Homo sapiens: one gene and its partners. The gene in region 2 interacts genetically with the main gene of each other region. Each region holds a gene or a part of one and is shown on either strand. Other genes may lie near its edges.

Region 1 (3,649 bases), on a different chromosome or scaffold from region 2:
ATGCCGGCTAATTTTTGTATTTTTAGTAGAGACGGGTTTCACTATGTTGGTTAGGCTGGTCTCGAACTCCTGACCTCATGATCCGCCCACCTCGGCCTCCCAAAGTGCTGGGATTACAGGCATACAGGCATGAGCCACTGCGCCCGGCCTTTTTTTTTTAAACTGATGGGGTCTTGCTATGTTGTCCGGGTTGGTCCTGAACTCCTGGGCTCAAGCAGTCCTCCCACCTTGGCCCCCCAAAGTGCTGGGATTACAGGTGTGAGCCACTGCACTTGGCCCGATGCGCTCTTTTTTTCCTTTTCTTTTTCTTTTTTTTTTTTTTTTTTGAGGTGGAATCTTGCTCTCACCCAGGCTGGAGTACAGTGGAGTACAGTGATGTGATCTCGGCTCACTGCAACCTCCACCTGCTGGGTTCTAGCGATTCTCCTGCCTCAGCCTCTCAAGTAGCTGGGATTACTGGCACATGCCACCACACCTGGCTAATTTTTGTATTATTAGTAGAGACGGTGTTTCACCTGTTGCCCAGATTGGTCTCAAACTCCTGGCCTGAAGTGATCCGCCCTTCTCAGCCTCCCAGAGTACTGGGATTTCAGGCGTGAGCTATTGCGCCCAGCCTCGATGCACTCTTAAAATATTTTATTTTCATGAAATTTCAGTTTGAAGGAACAGAATCAAATTGCCCAGTCTGCCATCTTGATTTAGTTTTCTATTTAAACTTTTATTGTATATGTTATATTTTTAATTTCTAAGAACTTTATTTTTTGGTATCTTTTTTTTGAGATGGAGTCTTGCTCTGTCACCCAGGCTAGAGTGCAGTGGCGCGATCTCAGCTCACTGCAACCTCCACCTCCCAAGTAGAAGTGATTCTCCTGCCTCAGCCTCCCCAGTAGCTGGGATTACAGGCGGGTGCCACCACGCCTGGCTAATTTTTGTAGTTTTAGGAGAGACAGGGTTTTACCATGTTAGCCAGGCTGGTCATGAACTCCTGACCTCAGGTGATCTGCCCACCTTGGCCTCCCAAAGTGCTAGAATTACAGGAGTGAGCCACCGTTCCTGGCCGATACCCAGTTTTTAAATTATTTAAAAAAAATTTTTTATAGCAGCCTGAAGCTGTAGTATCCCTTTGAGCTCACCAACAGTACTAATTACTGAACTTATTAAAATGTCTGTTATTTCCCATCACATCCTTCCGGTTTCTTTGCCTGCTTAGCTCCATGCCACTCTTGGACTATTAATAGTAATATATCTGGCCGGGCACGATGGCTCACACGTGTAATCCCAGCTCTTTGGGAGGCCGAGGCAGGCAGATCACCTGAGATTGGAAGTTCGAGACTAGCCTGACTAACGTGGAGAAACCTGGTCTCTACTAAAAAAAAAAAAAATATATATATATATATATATATATATATATATATAAAATTAGCTGGGCATGGTGGTGCATGTTTGTAATCCCAGCTACTCAGGAGGCTGAGGCAGGAGAATCACTTGAACCTGGGAGGCGGAAGTTGCATTAAGCCGAGATCGCGCCATTGCACTCCAGCCTGGCAACAAGAGCGAAACTCTGCCTCAAGAAAAAATATAGTAATATATCTGGATTTCATTTTTTTACATTTGCAAATGAATTCCAGCCTGGATTAATGTTAGCCCAGGTATTAATAGTGGTAGCAATTGCTTTTATTATTGTCAGTTTCCCTTAGCACACTTACCTTCCCGGTGAAGCCCAAAATCAAACAAATCTTTCTCCCTCTGTAGCCTGCTTGGCCTGGGCAGTTTGCTTCTAGCCCTTCCACCTACCAGTATTCATTGTACGGAGAAGCTATTTTACAGAGGACGGCTTTAGTGTCTCTTGAGGGATTTAGTTCTGTATTCTCAGGGGAATCCGTAGAGTACTCCTTTAGAATTCATTCCTCTTAGCAGACTCAACACTACATTGTAGTCACAAGATAAAGGTTTGTGTCTCAGCTTCTTGTCTTCTGACATTTGTTGTTTCTGTTGGATCTTGCTAGTGTTTTCTAAACTTTAGTAGAAGCAGGAGCTTGGAGCTTTTCTTAATTTCAGTGTAATTTGTATATTTGCCTTGGTTCTTAATTATTTTTTTGTTTAGTATTAGAGAAATGGTAAATAGGTACATATACTGCCAGAAATACATTTTTTTCCCTCATTATATAAATGTTATTCTAATCAGAAAATTTGGGAAGGCAGTGATGTTGATTCTAGACAACTGTGAAAGGCACTATCGTTAACTGGAGAAATTAATGTGTTGGTCTTGTCAGGAGATTGCTTGCTTGATAAGAATAGCCTCAGGGAGGGACACCAGCTGCTGATACAATGATGGCACCACAGATTAACATGCCTGTGCCCTTACTCTTGCCAAATCAGGTTGCAGAAGAACGCGGAGTCTTATATAATACAAGGAGATGTCTTTTCAGCAAGCCTAGCTAGCCTAGCCTTTAGCTGATTAGAAAAGAAGGTTGAGGCCGGGCGCGGTGGCTCACGCCTGTAATCCCAGCACTTTGGGAGGCCGAGGCGGGCGGATCACGAGGTCAGGAGATCGAGACCATCCTGGCTAACACGGTGAAACCCCGTCTCTACTAAAAAAAAAATACAAAAAATTAGCCGGGCGAGGTGGCGGGCGCCTGTAGTCCCAGCTACTCGGGAGGCTGAGGCAGGAGAATGGCGTGAACCCCAGGGGGCGGAGCCTGCAGTGAGCCGAGATTGCGCCACTGCACTCCAGCCTGGGCGACAGCAAGACTCCGTCTCAAAAAAAAAAAAAAAAAAAAAAAAAAAAAAAAAAGAAGGTTGAAAAACCAGGTTCCTAAAAAGGTCATGATTTTCCTGATCCATTTTGCCATCTGGACGGGAATTTTTAAGTCATTTTTTATTGGATATCTGGTAAACGAGATTTTAGATTGTATGGCGTATAAAATTACAGCACGTTTCCGATTTCTGCCTGTTATTTCTCCTCCAAAGATTTTTTTGAATAAACAACCAAACCCAAGAAAGAAGCTTCTTGTGCCTTGTGCACTGGATCCTCCCAACCCCAATTGTTATGTATGTGCCAGCAAGCCAGAGGTGACTGTGCGGCTGAATGTCCATAAAGTGACTGTTCTCACCTTACAAGACAAGGTCAGTGCAAGGCCTGGGTCTCTTTTCCTTTTGCTTTTACAGTATTACTGTGATGACAAACAAACACTAGCTGCTGATTCTGAAAAGGTCCAACTGCAGAGATGTGTGGCTGTGATTTCCTGGGTTATTTTGCCTTCTGGATTCCTGCAGGCTTTTCTGTCTGTGGTTCCAGAATAAGTGCCTCACATTCCCAGAATGGAGTAGGAGTATTTGACTGGAATCTGCAGCACAGTGGTGGCACAGTATCACAGCAAGCAGAGGACTTCTTTGCTCTTTGCTTCCCAGGCAGTGGGTAAATTCTGTATTTTTTGACAAATAACAGGTATCCTTGAATGGTCCTCACTGTGGCAGTGAGCAGATAAGTATTTGCATGCAGTGCAAAGTTTGCATTTCCAGTAGAGCAAAGCCCCAGTTACCAGCTTTGTATTAAAGGGTATAAGTAACTTGCAGAGTTTTGGTTTCTCTGCGTGTTGGACAGTGCCCACTCCCAGCAAATTAGGGGGCTTTTGTTATTTCTGAGGTC
Region 2 (3,649 bases):
GCCCAGGCTGGAGTGCAGTGGCATGATCTCTGCTCACTGCATCCTCCACCTGCCAGGCTCAAGTGACCCTTCCACCTCAGCCTCCTGAGTAGCTGGGACCACAGGCACGTGCCACAATACCCAGCTATTTTATATTTTTTGTAGAGTTGGGGTTTCCCTATGTTGCCCAGGCTGGTCTTGAACTCCTGAGATCCACCCGCCTTGGCCGAACTTTGGGAGGCCGAGGCGGGTGGATCACTTGGAATTAGGATCCTCCCAAAGTGCTGGGACTACAGACAGGCTTGAGCCACCATTGCCCGGCTGTCTATTTAAAAAAAAAAAAAAATTATAAGTGATTCTAACATGCAGCCTGGGGTGAGAACCATTGTTCTAGGTGAAAGAAGGAAGGCTCATTTTGCCTTCCTCCCATAGAAGGTAGAGATGTCATCCCCAACAGAAAAGGACTCCTGGGTCTCCCTCCTACTTCCATCAGTACTCTGTTGGGAGCTGTCAGGCTTCTGACAATTGAAAAAGGGACATGCAGTCAGGAGTGCTTGGTGCAGTCTTGGTGTTGTCACTGGAATCTGAACAGCATGTAGATATCTAGTAAGGAGGGAACCTCTCTGCTTCAGTTTCTAGGGTGAAGTCTCTTTCACCGCCTACTTGTGTCCCCTGTTTTTGGAAGAGCTTCAGTGCTTAAAGCATAGCAGAGGAGTCAGGGAGAAAAATCAGGTGCTGCAGCGTCTCTGAAGAGATGCTGGTTTATCTCCATTTCAGAGCTTACATGTGGCTCTTGCCCATGGATACTCTTGGCAAGCAGATATTGCCTATGTTTGTTGCTTCTAAGATGTCCCATAAAGATAATCCAGTAAGCCCTTGCCCCTTCTCCCTGTCCCTGAGTTCGCTGGCCTCATGGCAGCCTGGAAATCAGGCTTCTGGTCAGGCCCTCTGTCGGCCTTCTTTTTGTACTAAGAGCTTGTGTCTTACCTTCAACAGGTTTAAAGTCCTAATATTCACACTCAGTGTTAGTGGCCTGATTATCTGCCTTCCCTCCTCTTTCCTTCTAGCAAGGATGGGAGGTTAGCATTAAAATGGACTTGCTCAGCGGGCAAGATTTACTTTTGGGAGGGGGAGGTTAAAAGAGGTCAGGTTGGTTTCTTGCCTTGAGTGCATGGCGTGTGCCAGACAACTGGGAGGGGTAGCATGGGGGGATGGGAAGGCTTATGTACAGAGAGGGTGGGGAGGTTATGCTCCCTCTGCTCCCAGTTGAATGAGGGTGTTAATATTTATACAACTGAGGCTCCAAATTTACCAGGAAGCTTCAGTTTCCTAGGTTAAGCCTGGGTAGGCGCCTTGGAATAGAGCCACCCTTCTTTCCCCTTGGACAAGTAGGGCCCAGTCACCTAATGGTTTGGGGATTTTGTGGGGTAGAGTAAGTTCTAGAGTGGGAATGAGTGTGTCCCTGGCCTAAACTACCTGTTCTTGCAGGAGGAGCTGACAAGCACAAGTGTGGAACACATCATTGTCAATCCTAATGCTGCCTATGACAAGTTCAAGGACAAGAGAGTGGGGACAAAGGGACTTGGTGAGACTGGGCTGGAAGCTGGGTGGGGGGAAGACTGGAGGATAAGCATGAGAAGTGGTTTCCTGTCCTAAAGTCTTAGTGAGTTGTGCTTGGGGGAAGGGGTCCCTCATGGAGATATTTTATGGAAGCCCTCACAGTCACCTGAGACCATGACTGCCTTGGGCCTAGATCAGGCCCTCAGTTCCATCTTCTTTTCTTGGCAGATTTCTCAGATCGTATTGGAAAAACCAAGAGGACAGGATATGAATCTGGAGAATATGAGATGGTTTGTTGTGTGTGTGTGTGTGTTGATGGGAATGGTGTAGTGACCCTATCTAGCAGACATGTAGTAGGGAGATCAAGGGATACAGGCGGGATTCTGTTCCTCCTCTGTTCCTGAGGAAGCAGCAGGATGCAGCCAGGGAAACTCTGCCCTACTGCTGTTTGTTCTGGAGAGCCTCCAGCCCTCTAGCTGTCCTCAGTTCTTTGGTACTAGGGTGTTGTGGATTCTCAATTGGATATGATACCTTTATGACTTAGGCCCAGGGTGTGGATGAATTCTTGAGGCTCCCTGTAATGAGACATATAACATTACCCTCTGTGCCTGCTCTCTAGCTTGGAGAGGGTCTGGGAGTGAAGGAGACACCCCAGCAAAAGTACCAGCGCCTACTGCATGAGGTCCAAGAGCTGACAACTGAAGTTGAAAAAATCAAGGTAACTACAAACTCTCTTCTCCCTTCTCTGCTGTGACTTACACAGTAGAGGAAGACCTCAAGCAAGAAGAGAAAGATTCCCTGCCTGGCTGGGTGCGGTGGCTCACGCCTATAATCCTACCACTTTGGGAGGCCGAGGCAGGCGGATCACCTGAGGTCAGGAGTTCAAGACCAGCCAGGCCAACATGATGAAACCCCATCTGTACTAAAAAAATACAAAAACTTAGCCAGGTGTGGTGGCGCATACCTGTAATCCCAGCTACTCGGGAGGCTAAGGCAGGAGAATTGCTTGAACTCGGAGGCGGAGGTTGCAGTGAGCCCAGATCATGCCACTGCACTCCAACCTGGGTGACAGAGCGAGACTCCATCTCAAAAAATGAAAGAAAGAAAGATTCCTTAAGCTCCTGGATAAAGGGGCTAAGGTTTCCAGAGTTTACAAATATGCATCCATCTGTATGCAGTGCTACATACAGGTGGGCAGTCTGTCATGCTGAAAACCATCCCAGTGACCTCCAGCTACAACTACCTTTAAAGGGCTTGACCTATTTTTTTGCTTCTTGATTCATTCTTGCCATCCCCCGATTTCTACCTTTTTTCATACTAGACGACAGTGAAGGAGTCAGCCACAGAGGAGAAGCTGACCCCTGTGTTGCTGGCTAAACAGCTGGCAGCCCTGAAGCAGCAGCTGGTTGCTTCCCACCTGGAGAAGCTGCTGGGACCAGATGCTGCAATCAACCTTACCGACCCCGATGGCGCCCTGGCTAAGTGGGTACCCTACTTTGTTGAAAAATCATTGCTGACTGGGGTTGTGGATGGACTCAGCCAGCTACTGACAGGGGTGCTAAGTGGCAGAGAAGTGGCTTAGATGTTTCTTAATGCTGATTATGAGGCAAAAGTGAGGGAGAGTGACTGGCCCTTCTCCTTCCAGTCATGATATTATTACTCGGTCTCCTAACTAGGCGCCTACTACTGCAGCTGGAAGCAACAAAGAACAGCAAAGGGGGATCAGGGGGAAAAACCACTGGGACCCCCCCAGATAGCAGCCTTGTCACTTATGAACTACATTCTCGGCCTGAGCAGGACAAGTTCTCTCAAGCTGCCAAAGTAAGTGTGGATACAGTGTTGGTTGGGAAGCCAAGGGGAGATGTGACCCTAGAGATTTTCCTGCCTCTCTCCAAGGAGAGGGTGCTGGGAAGGCTTCTGATTCCTCTGATTCCTCTTGATTGATTCCTCTTTTGATTCCTGATTCGTTGTTCTCTATGTTTCTTTCTTTTTTTTTTTTTTTTGAGACGGAGTCTTGCACTGTTTCCCAGGCTGGAGTGCAGTGGCGCAATCTTGGCTCACTGCAAGCTCCGCCTCCCGGGTTCACGCCATTCTCCTGCCTCAGCCTCCT
Region 3 (3,649 bases), on a different chromosome or scaffold from region 2:
CTTATAATAAAACACTGAGTATCTCACACAACACTACAGAGTACAGCATCAGCTGTTTACCCTTGTGATTATGTTTCTGACTGGGGGATGTGGTCATTGGTGCTCCCCCACATCACAAAAGTATTGTGCCACTTATTGCTCATGTGGACAAAGATCAAAATTCAAAGTATGGTTTCTACCAAATGTGTATCACTTCCACACCATCGTAAAGTCAAAAAATCTTAAGTCTAAACATTGTGAGGGACAGTCACCTGTATTTGCATTTTACCACAATTAGAAATTTTTTTTTAAGTAACTTCAAATAACCATATTACCTTTATATTCCAAGATTACTTTACACTCTGAAAGATACCAGCCTTCCTCATCTCCTCAAAATCTTTCATGACATCGTAGTTTCTGTAGAAATCTGCGTATGCCTTCTTTCTTTGATCAGCCACACGAAACTAAAAAGCAACCATCCATTAGAGTTTATTTTTCAGATTACTGGAAATTAGATTCCAGATTATAATATATAAAGACAAGGTAGAACACATGTTTTTGTTCACCCTTTAATTTAAACCCTACATTTCCTAAGGGGTGGAGGTGGTGACAGATAAAAAGGAAGACAAAGTCTAAGAAACTGCTAAATTTGCAAAGAAAAGAATGGGGAATAAGGTGTCTATTTTGTTTTGTTCGAGGTTTCCGTACACAAAGGGTGGGTGGGGTTCAACAGAGAAAGAAAAAATGAAGATTCAAGACAAAAATGGAAAGTTTAAGTGACTTATTATTTTTTTTAAAGATGGGGTCTCGCCTGTAGTCCCAGCTACTCGGGAGGCTGAGGCAGGAGAATGGCGTGAACCCGGGAGACGGAGGTTGCAGTGAGCCGAGATCTCACCACTGCACTCCAGCCTGGGGGACAGAGCGAGACTCTGTCTCAAAAAAATAAAAAATAAAAAAAAATAAAAAATAAAAAAAAAATAAAAAATAAAAAAGATGGGGTCTCCCTCTGCAGAAATACACAGAAATCATGCTACTTGATGGAGTAACGCAGTAAGAATCCTTTACCTGACCAGTTTTACTGCTTCACTTCTATTTGAATTCCCAATTTCTTCCCAGTAATAAAATCAAGAGGCAGAGGTCGGGCGTGGTGGCTCATGCCTACAATCCCAGCACTTTGGGAGGCCAAGGGGGGCGAATCACAAGGTCAGGAATTGGAGACCAGCCTGGCCAACATGATGAAACCCCATCTCTACTAAAAATACAAAAATTAGCCAGGCATGGTGGTGGGCACCTGTAATCCCAGCTACTTGGGAGGCTGAGGCAGGAGAATTGCTTGAACCTGGGAGGCCTCGGAGGGTGCAGTGAGCCGAGATGGTGACGCTGCACTCTAGCCTGGGTGACAGAGCAAGACTCCGTCTTGAAAAAATTAAAATAAAAAGAGGCAGAAGCACAAGTGCTGGGGGCCATCATTACATGTACGGTTAATTTGGACTCTCCCTACCTCACTTAGTCATCCATCTGACAGAGAGACAGCCAAGGGTCCTAGCAAAAACCCACCTTCAAGCCTAAAACAGCCTGAAGGCTGAAAGGCCAGACTGTTGGACCCAGATCCCACGACCCTGAGGGAGAGCTGCACATTTGCCCACCCTTTCAGGACTGATTCTTTTTGAGTAATGGCCACAGGCACACTGGGGGAACAGGGTGGAACCAGGAGAAGCTGCACCTTGTGCAGTGGGGAGGAGCCTAGTCTCTTCAGCTCCTGTGTGGTAGCCTAGTATTCAATCTGTGAGGTGGGGGCCTGTTAGCAGGACCCCCTCTTGCTTTGCTGAGAGTCTGTTTTCTTTTTTCCTTTTCACCCAATAAATTCAGCCCTCCTCACCCTTCAATGTTTCCATGTGCCTAATTCCTCCTGGTCATGACACAAGAACCCAAATTTAGCTAAACTAAGGAGCAAAAATTCTGCATCACATCCATCCCTTCTACAAACATTTACTTCATGCCCACTATATATGCCAGGCAGCAGGAATCTCAAGGACCAAAAGACTTTGTGTGCTTGTCTCTCCAAAGAGTCCCAAAGCATAGGTCCACTTAGTGCTCCCACTCAGTGTTCCATCTCCTCTTTGCTCTCCCAGTTCTCCCTAACTTTTTTTTTTGAGACAAAGTCTGGCTCTATCGCCCAGCCTGGAGTGCAGCGGCACGATCTCGGCTCACTGCAACCTCCACCTCCCAATTTTTTTTTTTTTTTTTTGAGACAGAGTCTCGCTCTTGTTGCCCAGGCTGGAGTGTAATGGTGCGAACTCGGCTCACTGTAACCTCCCCTTCCTGGGTTCAAGCAATTCTCCTGCCTCAGCCTGCCGAGCAGCTGGGATTACAGGTGCCCGACACCACGCCCGGCTAATTTTTTTGTATTTTTAGTAGAGATGGGGTTTCACCATGTAGGCCAGGCTGGTCTCGAACTCCTGACCTCAGGTGATCTGCCCGCCTCAGCCTCCCAAAGTGCTGGGATAACTGGCATGAGCCACTGTACCTGGCCTCGCCTCCCAATCTTGGCTGACACCTCTGCCTCCCAGGCTAAAGCCAACCTCCCACCTCAACTTCCTGAGTAGCTAGGGCCACAGGCACATCATGTATTTTTGTATTTTTAGAAGAAATGCGACCGGGTGCGGTGGCTCACGCCTATAATCCCAGCACTTTGGGAGGCCGAGGCGGGCGGATCATGAGGTCAGGAGATGGGAGACCATCCTGGCTAACACGGTGAAACCCCGTCTCTACTAAAAAATACACAAAAAATTAGCCGGGTGTGGTGGCGGACGCCTGTAGTCCCAGCTACTCAGGAGGCTGAGGCAGGAGAATGGCGTGAACCCGGGAGGCGGAGCTTGCACTGAGCTGAGTTCACGCCACTGCACTCCAGCATGGGCAACAGAGTGAGACTCCATCTCAAAAAAACAAAAAAAAAAAGAAGAAAGGCCCAGCTAATTTTTGTATTTTAGTAGAGACGTAGTTTCTCCATATCGCCCAGGCTGGTCTTGAACTCGTGAGCTCAAGCAATCCGCCCACCTCAGCTTCCCAAAGTGCCAGGATTACAGGCATGAGACACCAGACCCAGCCCCTCTCCCTAACTTGCAAGGCTCAAATTCCACCTCCTCTATCAAATAGCTATGACCCACAATAACTGTGAACCACAACATCCCCCAAAACCATTCTTTCAGTTATGTTCTATCTTGCAATGTCTTCTAATTTTTTTCACCTCCCCAACTTGACTCTAAGTTCTTTAAGAACAGAGATTTAGCTACATGCCTTTTGTGTCCTCCAAAGCACTTGAAACTCTACATTACCCAACACTGTACTGAATTTTATACACTGCCTCTTATTCAACAGGTCCTTTTAATAACCTATTTGTGTGTCAGGCACCCAACAACAGGGTGCCACAGTAAACAAAAGACATGGTACCTGCCTTAATGAGGCTCACAGCCCAGTAAAGAACATAAACACTAAACAAAAATTAAATACAAAGAGTTATAAAAGCAAAGCTCTGAATTCTTTCATGGGGTATTATGACAAGCATGATAAACATATACATATTATCAAAAACATTTTTACGGAAAAGTTGTAAATGTGCAGCCTTTGATTAAAAATAAAGGGCATAACAAAATCCACATTAGGCAGAGTG

The links.
Region 1: changes in DCTN2 (region 2) and UBA2 together harm fitness less than expected from each alone (positive genetic interaction), as found in Homo sapiens cells (one large-scale study listed by BioGRID).
Region 3: changes in DCTN2 (region 2) and COX6C together harm fitness more than expected from each alone (negative genetic interaction), as found in Homo sapiens cells (one large-scale study listed by BioGRID).

What each region holds. Positions count from the first base shown.
Region 1 is NC_000019.10:34,455,799-34,459,447, forward strand, and holds part of UBA2 (SUMO-activating enzyme subunit 2), read left to right. Parts: intron 1-2,970; coding exon 2,971-3,126; intron 3,127-3,649. UniProt on the Homo sapiens protein: The heterodimer acts as an E1 ligase for SUMO1, SUMO2, SUMO3, and probably SUMO4. It mediates ATP-dependent activation of SUMO proteins followed by formation of a thioester bond between a SUMO protein and a conserved active site cysteine residue on UBA2/SAE2.
Region 2 is NC_000012.12:57,533,664-57,537,312, reverse strand, and holds part of DCTN2 (dynactin subunit 2), read left to right. Parts: intron 1-1,467; coding exon 1,468-1,564; intron 1,565-1,767; coding exon 1,768-1,829; intron 1,830-2,158; coding exon 2,159-2,257; intron 2,258-2,860; coding exon 2,861-3,021; intron 3,022-3,215; coding exon 3,216-3,360; intron 3,361-3,649. UniProt on the Homo sapiens protein: Part of the dynactin complex that activates the molecular motor dynein for ultra-processive transport along microtubules. In the dynactin soulder domain, binds the ACTR1A filament and acts as a molecular ruler to determine the length.
Region 3 is NC_000008.11:99,887,176-99,890,824, forward strand, and holds part of COX6C (cytochrome c oxidase subunit 6C), read right to left. Parts: intron 444-3,649; coding exon 330-443; 3' UTR 315-329; intron 1-314. UniProt on the Homo sapiens protein: Component of the cytochrome c oxidase, the last enzyme in the mitochondrial electron transport chain which drives oxidative phosphorylation.